2 separate regions of the Homo sapiens genome follow, and region 2 is linked to region 1. The links come from fine-mapping of genetic effects on gene expression. A gene starts in region 1. The other region holds a variant in brackets. All regions are shown on one strand. Distances are between the middles of the regions. Region 1 holds the start of DEGS1 (delta 4-desaturase, sphingolipid 1). Region 2 overlaps LOC101927143 (a long non-coding RNA gene).

The links. PIP is the estimated chance that this variant, and not a neighbour inherited with it, causes the effect.
Region 2: its variant is fine-mapped to the expression of DEGS1 in monocytes after LPS (Quach 2016, PIP 0.95).

What each region holds. Positions count from the first base shown.
Region 1 is chr1:224,179,004-224,188,958 of GRCh38, reverse strand. DEGS1 (delta 4-desaturase, sphingolipid 1) reads right to left here and starts at 5,719. Exons shown (of 3, transcript NM_003676.4): 1 at 5,541-5,719. The coding sequence starts at 5,622. It overlaps LOC124900425 (small nucleolar RNA SNORA72), which reads right to left and starts at 9,318; the gene lies at 9,192-9,318. RefSeq lists enhancers at 2,246-2,795, 3,347-3,406, 4,880-5,709, 6,044-6,133, 5,710-6,540 and 1 more and silencers at 3,378-3,672, 4,974-5,053, 5,214-5,593, 5,694-5,893.
Region 2 is chr1:224,201,300-224,211,254 of GRCh38, reverse strand. It overlaps LOC101927143 (a long non-coding RNA gene), which reads left to right. Exons shown (of 2, transcript NR_110669.1): 2 at 2,244-2,508. Among named protein-coding and RNA genes, the nearest start is that of DEGS1, 23 kb to the right of the region's middle. RefSeq lists an enhancer at 203-372 and a silencer at 6,245-6,294. The variant G/T (reference allele first, on the strand shown) is at 5,746.

The DNA of each region.
Region 1 (9,955 bases):
CACAGACCCAAATTTATAAGAAAATTATAAAACTCTGATAAGAAAACATAGAAATAAATCTTCATGGCCTTTGTGGTTTCTTAGATACTATAACAAGTACAAGTGACAAAAGAAAACAGAGAAATCGGACAGCATCAAAAACTTTCTGTTGCACATGATACTGTCAAGAAAGTAAAAAGACAATCCACAGAAGCGGGGTTATGTTTGCAAATCATGTATCTCATAAGGGACCTATATCCAGAATATATGAAGAACTCTTACAACTAATAATCCAATTAAAAAATGGGCAAAGGATCTGAACCCACTTTTCTCCAAAAGATACGGAAACAGTCAAGAAACACATGAAAGAGGCTCAACACCGTTAGTCATTAGGAAAGTGCAAACTGAAACCATAGATACCACCTCACACTCACTAGGATGACTATAATAAAAAAAGGTAGGTAAAAACAAGGATGTGGAGAAATTAGAACCCTCATACTTTGCTAGTGGGAATATAAAATGGTGCAGCTGCTTTGGAAAACTGTACAGCAGTTCCTCAAAATGTTAAACACCTGGTATATCCATACAAAGGAATATTATTCAGCCAGAAAAAGGAATCATACACTGACATATGCTATAACATGAATGAACCTTAAAATATTATTTTATTGAAATATTATTTTATTGAAAATATATTATTTTAATGAACCTTAAAATATTTAGAGACAGGGTCTACCTCTGTCACTCAGGCTGAAGTACAGTGATGCCATCATAGCTCACTACAGCCTCAAACTCCTGGACTCAAGTGATCCTCCTGCCTCAGTCACCCTAGTAGCTGGGACTACAGGAGCATGCCACTGTGCCCAGCTAAAATATTATGCTAATGGCTGGGTGCAGTGGCTCACACCTATAATGCCAGCACTCTGAGAGGCCAAGGCAGGAGGATCACTTGAGCCCAGGAATTCAAGATCAGCCTGGGCAACATAACAGGACCCTGTCTCTACAAATTAAAAAAAAAAAAAAATTTATATTATGCTAAGTAAAAGCCAATCATAAAAGATCAGGTATTTTATGATTTCATGTATATGAAATGTCCAGAATAAGCAAATCTATAGGCCACAAAGTAGATTAGTGGTTACCTAGGTAGAAGCAGGGGATATGAGGGACTGCTAATGAGTATAGGGTTTCTTTTGGTGATGATGAAATGTTCTAAGGTTATATGGTGGTGACAGCTGCACAACTCTGTGAATATACTAAAAAATACTGAACTGTACACTTTAAATGAATAAATCATGATAGTTGAATTATAATCTCAATAAAGCTATTGGCCAGGTGCTGTGGCTCACACCATTAATCCAGCACTTTGGGAGGCTGAGGCACAAAGACTGCCTGAGGCCCAGTGTTCAAGACCAGCCTGGGCAAACAGATTCTATTTCTACCAAAAATAAAAAAAATTAGCCAGGTGAGGTGGCACAAGCCTGTAGTCCCAGCTACTTAGGATGCTGAAGCGGGAGCATCACTTGAGCCCAAGAATTTATGATCACACCACTGCACTCCAGCCTGGGCAACACAGTGAGACTCTCTCTCAAAAAATAAAACATTAAAAAGCTGTATCATGTTAAAGTATAACAGTGAAGGAACCATTTCTTGTGATTTATTCTTTTTTTTTTTTGAGACGGAGTCTCGCTCTGTTGCCCAGGCTGGAGTGCAATGGTGAGATCTCAGCTCACTGCACCCTCTGCCTCCTGGGTTCAAGCAATTCTCCTGCCTCAGCCTTCCCAGTAGCTGGGATTACAGGCGCCCACCACCACACCCAGCTAATTTTTGTATTTTTAGTAGAGACGGGGTTTCACCATGTTGGCCAGACTGGTCTTGAACTCCTGACCTCAGGTGACCTGTCCACCTCAGCCACCCAAGGGCTGGGATTACAGCCATGAGCCACCCAGCCCAGCTCATCCTCACGAATTTCAAACAGATGCCTTGTAAATGAACTTTTAATGTGAACTCTAAATGTAAACTTAAAGTGTACAATTGTTGGTTGTTCTATCAGGCCCCTTCCCTCCCCCGCCAAAAAGTCAATACTTTCAGAAAGATCTCTTATCATTTGTGTATAATTTAAACAAATCTAAAGATTCTTTCTACAGGTTATTCCATCTCCCACCCTGAAACAGAACATGAGTTAGTATTTACACCTGCATGGAAAACATTGTACACTGTATTTTCATTGAGAAATATGTAGTCCTTCTTTTTTTTTTTTTTTTTTTTTTGAGACGGAGGCTCACTCTGTCGCCCAGGCTGGAGTGCAGTGGCACCATCTCAGCTCACTGCAAGCTCTGCCTCCCGGGTTCACGCCATTCTCCTGCCTCGGCCTCCTGAGTAGTTGGGACTACAGGTGGCTGCCGCCACGCCCGGCTAATTTTTTGTATTTTTAGTAGAGATGGGGTTTCACCGTGTTAGCCAGGATGGTCTCGATCTCCTGACCTCATGATCCGCCCACCTTAGCCTCCTAAAGTGCTGGGATTACAGGCGTGAGCCACCATGCCCGGCCAAGAAATATGTGGTCCTTTTACTTTCCCAGTGAAATGGTTCAGTGATAAGTCTGTGGGGGGAAAAAAGGCTCAGTGTGAGGTAAGTATCAATCAGCACCTTCTCACTTCCTTCATCTCTTTTTCTTGAGACAGTCTCACTCTGTTGCCCAGGCTGGAACGCGGTGGGGCAATCACGGCTCACTGCAGCCTCTACCTCCCCAGCTCAAGCAATCCTCCCACCTCAGCCTTCTGTGTAGCTGGGACCACAGGCACATGCCACCATGTCCCGCTAATTAAATTTTTTTTTTTTTGGTAGAGATGGGGTTTTGCCATGTTGCCCAGGTTGGCCTCGAACTCCTGAGTTCAAGTGTTCCTCTCGCCTCAGCCTTCTGAGTAGCGGGACAGGCATGCACGCCTAGCTAATTTTTTAATTTCTCGTGCAGATGGGGCTGTTCTGAACTGGCCTCAAGCGATCTTCTTGCCTCAGCTTCTCAAAGTGCTCGGATTACAGGCAAAAAAAAGCCACCACACCCGTCCTGATTTTCAGAATATTAAGTAGCTCAGTTTCAGTATTCCAGAGTTGGTTTTTACACAGGTAGGACGCTAGATTATTCCTATGTAACATGTAGATAAGGCATTGATAAAATATATCATATGTGGCCTGGCAGGGTGGCTCACGCCTGTAATCCCAGGACTTTGGGAGGCCATGGCAGGCGCATCATCTGAGACCAGCCTGGCCAATGTGGCAAAACCCTGTCTCTACTAAAAATAAAAATAGAAAAACTTAGCCAGGTATGGTGGCGGGCGTCTGTAATCCCAGGTACTCGGGAGACTGGGGCAGGCAGAACTGCTTGAACCCAGGAGGGAGAGGTTGCAGTGAGCCGAGACTGGGCCACTGCACTCCAGCCTGGGTGACAGAGTGCGGCTCCGTCTCAAAAAAGTATCATGCTATCTCATATCAAGTATGTGTAAGTGATGTGCCAAACAAATTGCTACTGGCAGGCTGAGGTATGCGGACCACTGGAGCCCAGGCTGCAGTGATCATCATGCCTGTGAACAACCACCGCACTCCAGCTTGGGCAACAAAGCAAGACCCTTTCTCTAATGGAGTGTAGGGGAGGAGGAAGAAGAGGAGGAAGGGAATTCAAGAACCCAAAGTTACCGGGTGCAGTGGCTTACGCCTTTAAAATCCCAGCACTTTGGGAGGCCAAAGCGGACAGATTGCTTGAGCCCAGGAGTTCAAGACCAGCCTGGGCAACACGGAGAAACCCATCTCTACAAAAAATAGAAAAATCAACCAGGCATGGTGGTGTGCGCTTGTGGTCCCAGCTACTTGCTTTTTCTTTTCACTGGGCAAATGAATGTTGAGAAGAAAAACTAAGGAAATACTATATATAAGGAATAATTGCTCATGTTCAACTCACCGTTTCCTCAATTTAAAAAAAGTGTGTGTGTGTGTGTGTGTGTGTGTGTGTGTGTGTAAACGGGGGGCTCTCACTATGTTACTCAGGATGGTCTCAAACTTCTGGGCTGAAGCGATCCTCCCGCCTCAGCCTCCCGAAGTGCTAGGATTACAGGCCTGAGCTACCGTGACCGGTCCCCGTTTCCTCAACAGAGGTTAAAAAGCTCGTGCTCTGGCCGGGCACGGTGGTTCACGCCTGTAATCCCAAAACTTCGGGAGGCCAAGGCGGGCGGATCACCTGAGGTCAGGAGTTCGAGATAAGCCTGGCCAACATGGTGAAACCCCGTCTCTAACTAAAAAAGATACAAACATTAGCCAGGCGTAGTGGTGGGAACCTGTAATCCCAGCTACTCGGGAGGCTGAGACAGAAGAATCGCTTGAACCCAGGAGGCAGAGGTTGCAGCGAGTGGAGATCGCGCCACTGCACTCCAGCATGAGCAACAGAGTGAGACTCAGTCTCAAAAAACAAACAAACAAACAAACAAAAAACAAACACGTGCAGTCTCAAAAAACAAACAAACAAAAAACAAACACGTGCTCTGGAAGAGGCAACCGAATGCGCATTAGAATCCCCCTAGCATTTAGTCACGCGTTCTTATTTCATTTTTTAAAACAGCGATAATACCAACCAAGTAGAATTACCAAGAGGATGAAATTGGGTAATGTTTGTAAAGCATTCCACACAATCCCTAGCATATTAGGAGTAGCCTGGGAGAGATGAGCATTCTCTATGTAACACAGAAGGCCCGAATCCTCTGGAGAGTTAAGGCCTCTCAATTAGCTGTCAGGGGACCAGCAGGCCACGCCACATATTTTCCTTATTTGGCAAGTCTTCCATTTTCAGTCTTTTCATCCACAAAACCGAGATGGATGAAAAATGCCTACGAATCCGCCGTTCTTACGTCCCAGGCTTGTCGTGAGGATCAATGGGACAAGCGGCGTGAACCGACCAGGGCCCATCAAGTCCGAGAAGCCCCGGGGGGCATATGGAGGGACGCCGGCCCCCTTAACGGGCCCAAGGCCGGGACTGCGGCCGCCCCCGCCAGTACTGCCCGCCGGCGCCCGACACCCTGAGCAGGGCTCGCTGGTAGGCCCAAGGATGCCCAGGACCACACCCTGCCTAGCACTCAGGCAGCCCCAAGGCCGGCACCCGCTCACCTCGGCCCGCTCCGGAGGAGAGGGAGTGGTGAGAGGAAAGGGCGCCCACCTGAGGGCACAGGAATCTTCTAGCGAAAAGATCTACTCAAGGCTGGCACAGCCGGGGACACCCTTCGCCCCAACCGGCCGGCGTGGGCCTGGCGGGGACTCCCGCGCTCGGGGACGCGCCTGCGCCTCTTCGCGGAAGGGTCGGAGCTGCGCGGCTCCGAGGACCCGTCCCTCCCCCCGCTCCTCGCCCAGCCTCTCCCGCGCTGACCCGCGGGCTGGCGGCCCGAGCGGCGACGGGACGCGACGGGGAGCAGGCTGCTAACGGGCCTCCGGCGCCCACGACCGCGCAGGGCCCGCGAGGGGAGAGCGCGCCCCGGCGCCGGGAGGCCACGCACGCACATAACGGGGCGCCCGCTGGCCCTCACCCAGGATCTCCCGGCGCCGGTCGGCGTGCGGCTGGTCGGTGTAGACCCACTCGAAGTCTTCCCGCGAGACGCGGCTCCCCATGGCGACAGCGGTGGCTTGCAGACTAGCTGTCGGCTCTCGCTCCCAGCCGGCTGCTCAGAGGTGGCGGCGGCGGCGGCGGCTCCCCGGCTGGTGTGGTGTCGGCCGGCTGTGGCGGAGCGCGGAGGAGACGGAGGCGTGGGCGGAGTCCCGAGGCCCCGCCCCCCCCGGCCCGCCCGCCTGCCTCTCTGGGTGGAGGGCGCGTGGCGCTCCCAGGCCCCCGTGCGGGGCCGGCTCTCAGCGATTCTGGGACGCGGGGTTCTGAGCTTCGGTGACTCGGCCACCATCCAGGATGCCGCGTTCTTGCGAGTGCCCGCCCCTGCGGCCTGCTGCGCCGGAGCCCGGAGAAGATGAAAAAGGAAGGAATGGTCTCAAGTGAGATAAACCTGCCGCCCTAACGCCTCCGCGAGGGGAGCACCGGGCACGGCTACGGTCACACCGAGTCTGGAGGCCCCGGAGCCCTTCTTAAATGGCAGCTGGCCTAAGTTTTGTTTAATTTTTAAAAAGCAAATTAGCCATTGAGTCATATTTCGCTGCCTTCTGGAAATAATACCTCAGGGAAAAAATGCAGAGTGCGTGACAATTAAAAGCTAATCAAGTAAAAAGAAAACACCATTATTAAGAGGGGGTGATGATGTGGGATTTGTTGTTGTGCTTGAATTATTCTAGTGTGACCACTTCTGTTAAGAGATGATTGCTCAACCTTGCATCTACCTGTCGCAGAAGTAATCAACCACAACCTCTTCCTGAAAGAAAGGTTTTGAAACGAAACTAATTTTGTTTCAACATTAGTTACCACGTCTACATCAAAGAGCAACTTAAAGATTACAAAAAGAAGATAACCAAAGCAGGTGTGCCTCCTAGTCAAAGAACATGCTGTGCACGCGCACACGGCACACACACACACACAAATCTGATCGAGCCCCTAGATCTGACTGTTAATTTATAGAAAATAGAAAGGACATTTGGCCGGGTGCGGTGGCTCACGTCTGTAATCCTTGCACTCTGTGAGGCAGAGGCGGGTCCATCACCTGAGGTCGGGAGTTCGAGACCAGCCTGATCAGGATGGTGAAACCCCCGTCTCTACTAAAAATATAAAAAAATTAGCTGGGCGTAGTGGCAGGCGCCTGTAATCCCAGCTACTCAGGAGGCTGAGGCAGGGGAATCGCTCGAACTGGGAGGCAGAGGTTGCAGTGAGCTGAGACGGAGCCACTGCACTCCAGCCTGGGGGACAGACGGAGACTCCCTCTCAAGAAAAAAAAAAGAAAATAGAAAGGACAGAGGAATGTGTTAAACTAGGCCGTGGGGATGAAACTAGCAAGATCCAACTCTGGGAGACTATATGGGACAATGTCTGGGTTCTCTAATAAATGAAACTCAAGGCAAAAAAAGAGAAACCTGTAGATTAAAAGGAGTTTAAAAGACATACCAACCAATTGCAACGTGTTGACCTCATTTAGATTCTGATTGAAATAGTTTAAAAACATTGACATGAAATAATTGAACTCAGATATCAATTGGATATGTGATGATATTAAGGAATTATGAATTTCTTAAGTGTGATAATAGTATTATGGTTATAGTGGGTTTTGTTTTTTTTGAGACAGAGTCCTGCTCTGTTGCCCAGGCTGGAGTGCAGTGGTGGCCTCATGTCTCACTTCAGTCTTGACCTGAGCTTAAGCCATCCTCCCACCCCAGTCTCCCGAGGAGCTGGGATCACAGGCGTGCACCACCATGCTTGGCTACTTTTTTGAATTTTTGATAGAGATGGGGCCTCACCTTGTTGCCCAGGCTGGTCTCAAACGCTTGGGCTCAAGTGATCTCAAAGTATTGGGATCACAGGCATGAGCTACTACATCCGACCCCAGGAGCATTATTAATAAGTCCCTAAGACCCTCTCAGTACATTCACTTCTGAAATAGAGAGGGCCAGCACGGCTGAGACATCTAGCAGAGAAGGCTGTGAGAGCAGAGGGGAGACAGAACAGTGACACCTGGAGTGGAGGCCTGAAGGCTGATCAGAGCCCAGCGAGGGTCATGTCTGCAGGGCATGCTAGCAAATGCGTGGCTGGGTCAGCCTCCAGAGGGTCCCAGTCTCGAAAAAGGAGTGGGATTTGATGATGGATAGATACACAGGTCTGATCATGCAGGAGCTTTTTAGTTGTTAATGAAATGGTGGAGGAAAAAGAAGGTGGGGAGTGTCACCTGGAAAAGGACAGCTTTGTATTTGCCAAGTTTCATCTGGATTGGCAGATGGCACATGAAGCTGATAATTGGACTCAACTCAGGAGGAAGTTTTCAGGTGCTGACAAGTAAATGTATCCCTGCAGTTCAGAACGCAGTTGCTATCACAGGCATGTGTGAACTGGCACACCAGTCCAAAAGGTGTGCGGAGGCTTACGTCTGTAGTCTGAGCACTTTGGGAGGCCGAGGTAGGGGGATCGCTTGAGGGCAGGGGTTCGGGACAAGCCTGGGCAACATGGCAAAAACCCACCTCTATAAAAAATACAAAAATTATGCCGGGTATGGTGGCTCATGCCTGTAATCCCAGCACTTTGGGAGGCCAAGGCGGTCTCCAAGGTCAGGAGATCCAGACCATCCTGGCTAACACGGTGAAACCCCATCTCTACTAAAAATACAAAAAAAATTAGCCAGGCATGGTGGGGGGGGCGCCTGTAGCCCCAGCTACTTGGGGGGCTGAGGAAGGAGAATGGCATGAAACCGGGAGGCGGAGCTTGCAGTGAGCCGAGATCGCACCACTGCACTCCAGACTGGGCGACAGAGCAAGACTCCGTCTCAAAAAAAAAAAAAAAAAATTTAACTGGGCGTGGTGGCCCATGTTTGTGGTCCCACCTATTGCTGAGGCTGAGGTGGGAAGATTGCTTGAGCCCAGGAGGTCGAGGCTTCAATGAGCTGAGAAATGAGCTGAGATTGTGGCACTGCACTCTAGCCTGTGTGACAGAGTGAGGCTTTGTCTCAAAAACATTAAAAAATAAAAGAAAGAAAGAAAAATGCAGAGTTTGAAAAAAAATGTGAATCTGGATATACCATTTTTTTTTTCTGAGATGGAGTTGCGCTCTGTTGCCCAGGCTGGAGTGCAGTGTCAAGATCTTGGCTCACTGCAACCTCTGCCTCCTGGGTTCAAGCGATTCTCCTGCCTCACCCTCCCGAGTAGCTGGGATTACAGGTGTGTGCCACCACGTCCAGCAACTTTTTGTATTTTTACTAGAGACGGGGTTTCACCATGTTGGCCAGGCTGGTCTTGAACTCCTGACCTTAAGTGATCTGCCCTTCTTGGCTTCCCAAAGTGCTGGGATTACAGGCATGAGCACCACACCTGGCTTGGACATTCTTTTTTTTTAAAAAAAGTTACAATTCATTTAATAGCAACTGGTAATCATGAAATTTTCTTATTTTGTTTAAACCCTCTTTAAACAAAAGTCTGCAAATTAGCACTGATCATTTGCAAAAGTCATTACATATACTGCCATTTTTCTTAAGGTTGACCAAAGATAACCTAGAATTATAGCCGTTACATAATCACACAAAATGATTATATATTAATCAGACCTGGTTTATCACCAGCATTTATAAAAACAGACGTAGGGAAAGAACTAGGTCTAGGGACACGTACATGGTCTTAATATAGCGACTGTTTATCCTGTCCTGACTATTACAAAATCAATTTTGACATTCTAAAGTAAACTATTTGAGCTACAGGATTGTCATGGGCATTGATAGCTATTTTAATGATGTCTAGGCATGCTTCTTTAATTTGGACTTTTAAAAGTTCTTAATATATACGCGTAATAAAAAAGTAAGCTAAGAAGTATAGCCAGGCATGGTGGCTCACGCCTGTAATTCCAGCACTTTGGGAGGCCGAGGTGGGTGGATCACAAGGTCAGGAGTTCACGACCAGCCTGGCCAAGATGGTGAAACCCCGTCTCTACTAAAAATACAAAAATTAGCTGGGCATGGCGGTGGGTGCTTGTAATCCCAGCTACTTGGGAAGCTGAGGCAGAAAACAGCTTGAACCCGGGAGGCGGAGGTTGCAGTGAGCTGAGATTGCACCACTGCACACTAGCCTGGGCGACAGAGCGAGACTGTCTCAAAAAAAAAAAAAAGAAGTATAAATAAAATGCCTTGAAGTTTTAAAAAAAGATTCTTAATGGATTATCTAGCTTTCACATCTTTTCCTTAACCTTGTCAAATAATTTGTCTTGAAGCAAACATACTAGTTATTCTGGAAAAACGCTCTCCAGTCGGCTGTTGGAAGCTGTGGTGAATCGCAGCCAGCCATGATCATATTAGGAAATTTAAGATGAAGTAGTTTTCAG
Region 2 (9,955 bases), 22 kb before region 1:
GCAGTTCATAGTCCACTTGTAAGTTGAAATTAGAAACTGCAAGGACAGTAATATAAGTGGGAGGAGAGATTTCATTAATCCCGTCAACAAATATTTATTGACTGCAGCTGTGCTAGTGGGTAATGATAATACAGCTAAGAGCCAAAACAAAGTTCCTCCCCTATGGGCCTTTCTTTCCAGTGGGAAGAGGGTACAGGGTACAGTCAATAAATCCAAATATATATATTTATGTATGCACACAGATATATATATAAAACAAGTGGAATGTGCTGTGAAGAAGAAGCAGGGTAAGGCTCTGGAAAGGGCCAAGGGTGTGCGTGAGTGGGGTGGTTACTGTATAGAGATTGGCCACGCCGGGTGCAGTGGCTCACGCCTGTAATCCCAGCACTTTGGGAGGCCGAGGTGGGCGGATCACCTGAGGTCTGGAGTTCGAGACCAGCCTGACCAACATGGAGAAACCCCATCTCTACTAAAAATACAAAATTAGCCAAGCGTGGTGGCGCATGCCTGTAATTCCAGCTACTCGGGAGGCTGAGGCAGGAGAATGGCTTGAACCCGGGAGGCAGAGGTTGCTGTGAGCTGAGATCGTGCCATTGCACTCCAGCCTGGGCAATAAGAGTGAAACTCCCTCTCAAAAAAAAAAAAAAAAAAAAAAAGAGAGATTGGCCAGGAAAGGCCTCTGGCAAGATGATCTCTGAAGGAAGTGAGAGTAAGTGGTGCAGCTTTTGGGAGGAAGATAGTGCTGGGCAGAGGGAAGAGCAAAGGCTACGTCTCTGCATTCCAAGATTACAAATAGAGGGTAACATTCACCCTCCACCCCTCAACGCCTCTTTCCTGTGACCTTCGGGAGCTGCAGAACTTCAGTGTCCATCAGTCAGAGGCAATGCCCCTGACCCAGACGCCTCTAGTTGAGAGATAGACAGAGCTGGATTTATAGCACCACAGACCTGACCTGGAATGAGACTTGCAAGTATGTCAGGGAGCTGCACGCTAACCTAGGAAGAGGCTGGCCAGGTACCATTTTCTGTATGGTTATGATGAAGCAGCTGGTACAAATGTTAGGGGACAGTGGCACATGGTGGGGGAAAAGCCCAGCGCTCAGCTTCTGGTCTGGCTTTTCTACCTTAGGACCTTTTACTGTGGTCTGTGGGTCTTGGGGTCTGTGGGTCTTGGGGTCTGTGATTGGATAAATGAAGGTAAGTAGACTGGGAAGGACAGAACAGGGAACACAGATCTGCTTTGGCCGGGCATGGGTGGCTCAAGCCTGTAACCCCAGCACTCATAATGACTTACAAAAGCATTCATTCATAACTTACAAAAGCATTCATAATGGTGGCCTTTGAGAGCTGGGATTATGGACAACTTATATACCTTTTTGCTACTTTTATGTGAATTTCTACAAATTACTTTTTTTTCTTTTTGAGACAGGGTCTGGCTCTGTCGCCCAGGCTGGAGTACAGGGGCATGATCTCAGTTCACTGAACCCTCCTGGGTTCAAGCAATCCTCCTGCCTTAGCCTCCCAAGTATCTGGGACGACAGGTGTGCTCCACCACGCCTGGCTAATTTTTCTATTTTTAGTAGAGATGGGGTTTCGCTATGTTGGCCAGGCTGGTCTTGAACTCCCGACTGCAAGTGATCCACCTGCCTCGGCCTCCCAAAGTGCTGGGATAACAGGCATGAGCCACTGTACCTGGCCTACAAATTACTTTAGCAACAGAAAAAGAAGGTGAGCAAAGTTATGCACAAGTGTATTAACAAACTGCTCTCCTGTACCTAAATCAGTCATTCCTTTTTTTGAGACAGAGTTTCACTCTTGTTGCCCAGGCTGGAGTGCAATGGCATGATCTCTGCTCACCACAACTTCCGCCTCCTGGGTTCAAGTGATTCTCCTGCCATGCCCGGCTAATTTTGTATTTTTAGTAGAGACGGGGTTTCTCCATGTTGGTCAGGCTGGTCTCAAACTCCCAATCTCAGGTGATGCGCCCGCCTCAGCCTCCCAAAGTGCTGGGATTACAGGCGCGAGCCACTGCACCCGGCCACTAAATCAGTCATTCTATCCAGTTCCTTGCATTTACTCCTTTCTTGTGCTAACCCACAGCCAGTACTTAAGAGTATTTAAGTCCTCTCTCCTTTCATGAGTCACTCCTTTTTGTCTTGTGACTATACTTGGAAAAATTTTATTATTCATTCATTTATTTATTTATTTATTTATTTATTTATTTATTTATTTATTTATTTTTAGATGGAATCTTGCTCTGTTGCCCAGGCTAGAATGCAGTGGCGTGATCTTGGCTCACCAAAAATTCTGCCTCCTGGGTTCAAGTGCCTCCACACCCAGCTAATTTTGTATTTTTAGTAGAGACGAGATTTCACCATGTTGGCCAGGCTAGTCTTGAACTCCTGACATTGTGATCCACCCACCTCAGCCTCCCAAAGTGCTAAGATTACAGGTGTGAGCCACCATGCCCGGCCTACCTGGAGCATTATTAAAACCTTAAACCTTTAAATTTTTCATCATTGTGCTTTGTTTCCTTAAAGATTAGGAAAGGGATTGTCAGCGGATAAGACTTGCCCTCTTCTGCTGCTCTCTAGCCGTGGGCAAGTTCCTTCCACTCACTGTGTGTCATTTTCTTCATCTGTAAACACAGGATAATAGTAACAACACCTCTCTCCTAGGGCCTGGACGGGGCATGCCAGTAAGGGGTCCTGAAGCTTAGGCCCCTGGGATTTGGATAGAGAAAGTCATGGTGAAGGTGGGTGTGACATTGGTGAGGTGGCATTGGACACCCTTCAGGGCCTCTCCTGTCCTCTGTACACTCCAGACAGTGCCCATTTGTGCAGAGGCTGTCCTGGGTCTCTGCCTGAGGGCTTTCTCTGCTCCTCTACCCCAGACCAATCCGAAGTGTCCCCACGAGCAACCTTCAACCAAAGAGGGACAGGAGTCGGTGAACATGCACCTCAGCCTCCTCACCTCTCCGAGGAACTTTAAAAAAATCTTGTATTGGCTGCATGGCAGAGATGGGGGGATTGCTTGAGCCTATGAGTTCACAACCAGGCCTAGGAACATAGTGAGACCTCCCTCTTCCCTCGGCCCAACCCGCCAACACCCCCATCTCTACAGAAAATTTTAAAATTAGCCAGGCTTCGTGGTGGGAACCGTAAAAATCTAAGAAGGGTCTCAGTTAATTTAGAAAGTTTATTTTTGGCTGGGAGCAGCAGCCCACACCTGTAATCCCAACACTTTGGGAGACCGAGGCAGGCGGATCACTTGAGACCAGTTCATGACAGCCTCAGGAGGTCCTGATGACATGTGCCCAGGTAGTGGGGGCACAGCTTGGTTTTATTTTTATTTTTTACTTTTTAAATTATTATTATTTTTTTGAGACGGAGCCTTGCTCTGTCATCCAGGCTGGAGTGTAGTAGCATGATCATGGCTCACTGTAACCTCCGCCTCCTGGATTCAAGCGATCCTCCTGCCTCAGCCTCCCAGGTAGCTGGGATTACAGGCACATGACACCACACCCGTCTCATTTTTGTATTTTTTAGTAGAGATGGGTTTTCACCATGTTGGTCAGGCTGGTCTTGAACTCCTGACCTCAGGTGATCTGCCTGCCTTGGCCTCCCAAAGTGCTGGGATTACAGGCGTAAGCCACCACGCCCGGCCACACAGCTTGGTTTTTTCTTTTTTTTTTTTTTTGAGACGGAGTTTCGCTCTTTCACCCAGGCTGGAATGAAGTGGTGTGATCTCAGCTCACTGCAGCCTCTGCCCCCCAGGCTCAAGCGATTCTCCTCCCTCAGCCTCCCGAGTAGCTGTGATAACAGGTGCCCGCCACCACGCCCGGCTAATTTTTGTATTTTTAGTACAGACGGGGTTTCACCACATTGGCCAGGCTGGTCTCAAACTCCTGACCTCAGGTGATCCATCTGCCTCGGTCTCTCAAAGTGCTAGGATTACAGGCGTGAGCCACCGCGCCAGCCAACAGCTTGGTTTTATACATTTTAGGGAGACATGAGAAGTCAATCAATGTAATATGTACATTGGTTCTGTCCGGAAAGGTGGGACAACTCAAGCAGGGAGAGGGTTTCCAGGTGACAGGTAGGTGAGAGACAAAGGGTTGCATTCTTTTGACTTTCTGATTAGCCTTTCCAAAGGAGGCAATCAGATATGCATCTATCTCAGTAAGCAGAGGAATGACTTCCTAATTTTTTTTTTTTTTTGAGACGGACTCTTGCTCTATCACCCAGGCTGGAGTGCAGTGGCATGATCTCCGCTCACTGCAAGCTCCACCTCCTGGGTTCACGCCATTCTCCTGTCTCAGCTTCCCGAGTAGCTGGGACTACAGGCACCTGCCACCATGCCCGGCTAATTTTTTGTATTTTTAGTAGAGATGGGGTTTCACCATGTTAGCCAGGATGGTCTCAATCTCCTTACCTCGTGATCTGCCTGCCTCGGCCTCCCAAAGTGCTGGGATTACAGGCATGAGCCACCTGCCCAGCTGAGCAGAGAAATGACTTTCAACAGAATGGGAGGTAGGTTTGTCCTAGCAGTTCCCATCTTGACTTTTCCCTTTAGCTTAGTGCTTTTAGGGCTCCAAGGTTTATTTTTCTTTCACAGTGGCATATGCCTGTAGTATCAGCTGAGGTAGGAGGATCATTGGAGCCTGGGAGGTCAAGGCTGCACTTAGTGATTACGCTATTGCACACCAGCCTGGGTGACAGAGTGAGACTCTCTCAAAAAACAAAAAATGGCCAGGCATGGTGGCTCTCACCTGTAATCCCAGTCCTTTGGGAGGCCAAGACAGGCGGATCACCTGGGGTTGGGAGTTTGAGACCAGCCTGGCCAACATGGTAAAACCCCATCTCTACTAAAAAAATACCAGAATTAGCCAGGCATGGTGGCAGGTGCCTGTAATCCCAGCTACTCAGGAGGCTGAGGCAGGAGAATCGCTGGAACCTGGGAGGCGGAGGTTGCAGTGAGCCGAGATCGTACCATTGCACTCCAGCCTGGGTGACGGAGCGAGACTCTGTCTCAAAAAACACAAAACACAAAACAAAAAATCTTGTATTGTAAAATCCAGATACAGAAAAATACACAGAGCAAACGTGCAGCTTAATGAATTACTCCAAGGCAAACACCTCTGTAACCATTGGTGGGACATTGCGAGAGCTCTCAGGAGTCCTGGGGAATGAGCTCCAGTTGCCTACAGTGGTTACCTGCTCCTTAAGTGACACACGCTTTACTGGCCTGCTTTTTTGGATTTCCTTTTCTCACTCATTTCAGGATCACCTTCCAAATAAGCCATATACCCAAATTCTCATCTCAGGGTCAGTTTTTGGTGAAACTAGAAATCAGGCCGTTTCTAAGGAAGTCTTCTTTAAAGAGGTGGCATTTGAGCTGAGAGCTGATTATTGAGAGGGAGGTGGCTCTGTGAGCTCTGGTCTAGTGTCTACGCAGAGGACACCAAGCAGGCCCTGGGACACAGCAATCCTGAGTGTGTTTGGAGCAGAAAGCAGCCCATGGTGGCTGGACCACAGGGAGAGATGGCCTGGGAGAGTCAGGCAGGAGCCTAATCATATGGTTTACAGCCCTGCGTGTGTGTGTTGGGGTTGGGGGGGGGGGGCTGGGTGTGTGTATGTGAGCAACGTGTGAGTCATGTGGGATGGGAGGCCCCCTTGCACTTTCCTTCTCAGCCCCTTGCCACCTGACATCCACACTCACACATCCTCACAGGCAGTTCCGTTTT[G/T]AAAACCTGATTTCATGTGGCCAGTCCAGTCTTAGGACAAATATATATTCATAGAAGGCAATTTAAAAAGCCAAGTCGGCCGGGCGCGGTGGCTCACGCCTGTAATCCCAGCACTTTGGGAGGCCGAGGCGGGCGGATCACGAGGTCAGGAGATCGAGACCATCCCGGCTAACACGGTGAAACCCCGTCTCTACTAAAAATACAAAAAATTAGCCGGGCGTGGTGGCGGGCGCCTGTAGTCCCAGCTACTCGGGAGGCTGAGGCAGGAGAATGGCGTGAACCCGGGAGGCGGAGCTTGCAGTGAGCCGAGATCCCGCCACTGCACTCCAGCCTGGGTGACGGAGCGAGACTCCGTCTCAAAAAAAAAAAAAAAAAAAAAAAAGCCAAGTCATCTCAACCCGAGCTACACTAGATGCACGGCTGTGTCAGTTACCAGAGTCCAGCTCGGTGTTGGCTAATAGTGGAAGCACAACTTCCATTGCCAAAGCTCAGAGACAGAAACTCCGGAGATGGAGCAGGCAGATAAGTGTGTGGCTGGCGCAGAGCCAGGCCCTCGGAGATGACGAGCATGTCTCTCACCAGCCCCTTCTGCAGTGAGTGGCTGTCCCACGGGTCTCTCCAGCTGCCAGGGGAGAATGAATTAGGGTGTTGAGAATTACCCAAACCCAAGGCTGGGGAGGGTGTGACTCCATCTAGGCCAGTCCTTGTCTTTGCTAATCCAGCATGACCCAGGCCTGCTGTGGAATATTTTGGAATATATTGGAATATTTGGAATATATTGACAGTGCAAGTTAAGAGTTTTGTTGATTAAAAAAAAAATACTCAAGTCAAATTTATAGAAACAGAAAGTAAAGTGCTAGTTGCCAGGGGCTGGGGGAGGGAAAATAGGGAGCTGTTTAATGAGCATGGAATTTCGGTTTTTCTTTTTTCCTTCTTCTTCTTTTTATTTTTTTTTTCTTTTTCTTTCATTTTTTTATTTTTATTTTTTGAATCTCAGATTTTCAAGATGAAAAGTTCTGGAGATAGGTTGCATAACAATGTGAATGTATGTAATACTCCTGAACTGGACACGTGAAAATGGTAACAATGGGCTGGGTGCGTTGGCTAATGCCTGTAATCCCAGCACTTTGGGAGGCCGAGGCGGGTGGATCACCTGAGGTCAGGAGTTTGAGACCAGCCTGACCATATATGGTGAAACCCCATCTCTACTAAAAATACAAAAAAAAATTAGCCAGGTGCAGTGGTGGGCGCCTGTAATCCCATCTACTTGGGAGGCTGAGGCAGGAGAATTGCTTGAACCCGGGAGGCAGAGGTTGCAGTGAGCTGAGATTGCACCATTGCACTCCAGCCTGGGCAACAGAGTGAGACTCTGTCTCAAAAAGAGAAAAAAAAAATGGTAACAATGGTGTATTTTATGTTCTTTGTATTCTATGATAATTTTTTTTTTTATTTCTTAAAAAATAAACTCAGACAATAGTTTGGGCAGCAAGCACCGACTGCCATGGTTTGGAACAAGTGTGACCTGTGCTCTGACTGCTGGCACTGTCCCAAATGACTGACTCCTGTAGCTTGGTGTTCCCAGTGGCATCAGTAACCAGCATTACCACAACCCCTGCAGTGAGTGACAGTGCTTTTCCCATCTGATTTCCAAGGCATCTCAAGGTCCCGGGAGGGAGGTAAGAAAAGATAGACAAGATAGATAAAGGAAACCAGCCCAGGGAAGGTAATTTGCTTCAGTCACACTGGCAACACAACCTGTCTTTCTTTCCTGTCCCTGGCTCTGAGATGCCTAAGGGGCTGCACTCCCAAGTCGGGGTTCTTCCTGGGCCCCCGGCCACCGGGTTTGACACCGGTGGCTTATTAAACAGCTGCTCATCATCCCCTGGTCATGAGGAGGGGGAGTCAGTGACTTGAGGCACTCACAACATCCAGATTCCTTTTGGCAAACAGGACCCCAGGCCGAGGAGTTCTGCTTGCTTGTCCTGGGATGGCCATCTGATGATCTCAGCTGGGCTTTGCAGAGTGCTGTGGTTTGGAGAACTGTTTCTGAGCCAGCTCTGAAAACTATTTGGTTAAATGTGAGCTCCAGGCCACAGACTCCTGTTCCTGCTTTCAATTCTGCATTCTCCTGACCATTGGAGTGTGGAAGTAGCTTGGGGTGTTCATGGGCTGCCCCTCCCCCAACCCACACACTCACCCTCACTGAGAGCCACTGCTTGGCCTGCTGCCTGTGTTCCTGGGAGTGGGACGGTTCATATTATCATTAGAAAACCCCATCAGTTATACTAAGTAGAAAGCGGGCTCTGAATTTGAGGAAAATTATCATTGTAAAATCCTTTTTAAGAAATACAAACTTTGGGCCGGGCATAGTGGTTCACGCCTGTAATCCCAGCACTTTGGGAGGTTGAGGTGGGCAGATCACCTGAGATCAGGAGTTCGAGGCCAACGTCATGAAACCCCATCTCTACTAAAAATACAAAAACTAGACAGGCGTGGTGGCATGCACCTGTAGTCCCAGCTACTCGGGAGGCTAAGGTGGGAGAATCGCTTGAACCCGGGAGATGGAGGCTGCAATGAGCAGAGATCGCGCCACTGTACTCCAGCCTGGGCTATTGAGTGAGACTCCATCTCAAAAAAAAAAAAAAAAACACAAATATTGGCCAGGTGTAGTGGCTCACTCCTGTAATCCCAGCACTTGGGAGGCTGAGATGGGAGGATTGCTTGAGGCCAGGAATTTAAGAGTTCAAGGCCTTTCTCTTAGCCAGGCTCAGTGGCTCACACCTGTAATCCCAGCACTTTGGGAGGCCGAGGCAGGTAGATCACTTGAGGTCAGGAGTTCGAGACCAGCCTGGTCGACATGGTGAAACCTGTCTCTACTAAAAATACAAAAATTAGCCAGCCAGGTGTGGTGGCGGGTGCCTGTAATCCCAGCTACTCGGGAGGCTGAGGGAGGAGAATTGCTTGAACCTGGGAGGCAGAGGTTGCAGTGAGCCGAGATCGTGCCATTGCACTTCAGCCTGGGCAACAAGAGCTAAAGGAAACTCTGTCTCAACAACAACAACAACAAAGAGTTCACGAGCAGTCTGGGCAACATAGTGAGCCCGGACCCAGTCTCTTTTTTTTTTTTTTTTTTTTTGAGACACAGTCTCCCTGTGTCACCCAGGCTGGAGTGCAGGGGCGCAATCTCGGCTCCCTGCAACCTCCTCCTACCAGGTTCAAGCAATTATCCTGCCTCAGCCTCCCAAGTAGCTGGGATTACAGGTGCACGCTATCATACCCAGTTAATTTTTTGTATTTTTACTAGAGATGGGGTTTCACTGTGTTGGCCAGGCTGGTCTTGAACTCCTGGCCTCAAGTGATCAACTCACCTTGGCCTCCCAAAGTCCTGGGATTACAGGCATGAGCCACCACGCCCGGCCTGGTCTCTTTTTAATTAAAAAAAGAAAAAGAAAAATGCAATGTCATGGACTTTGTAGACATTGGGTTAGAATTTTGGCTGCATGACTTTAGACAAGTTACTTATTCCTTCCTATTAGTTTATTTTCTTGGCTGCAAAATGAGGATAATACCAATGTAAGGATGAAACAGTCCATAAAGAGATGAGCACAGGCCCCGGCACTTGGCAGGAGCCCCATCAATATTGTCAGCTCCCAGTTAGGATTCTCTAGGAATAACCAGACTCGTTGTATGCATTGTCCTTTGGTTCTCAAAAACAGTTTGGCCTCTTAGTATAGAATTCTGTGAGGTAGGTTAAAGTTCTTCTTACGTCCTTGCTTATGTTATTAATTTACTCAGCAAACTTTCCCAGATCCAAGGTAACCTTTAGAGCAGTCAGGTACAAATGGGTCTGGAGCAATGTTACTCTCTTCCCTGGCAGTGCAGTCATGAGCCTGAGCTGGCTGCAGAGAAGAGCTCACTGCATCTCCCTGGAATGTGGGGAGTTGACTGGGGAGTGGATGGGGCCCAGCCCTCCCCAGAGAAGAATATCTTTCTGATCACTGCCGTCTGTGGTGGGGCATTCAGACTCCAGGATTCCCAACTGGACGGCAGCAATCCCTCATTTCATACGTGACCAGACGGAGGTTCTTTGTGGATATGTAATTGATGGGTGGTGGTGGTGTGGCAAGGGCTGGGGCTTAGAGTGAGGCTGGTTCAAATCGGGTTCTGGTTCTGCCACTACTCAGAGATCAAGCTGGCCAACTTGATGCAA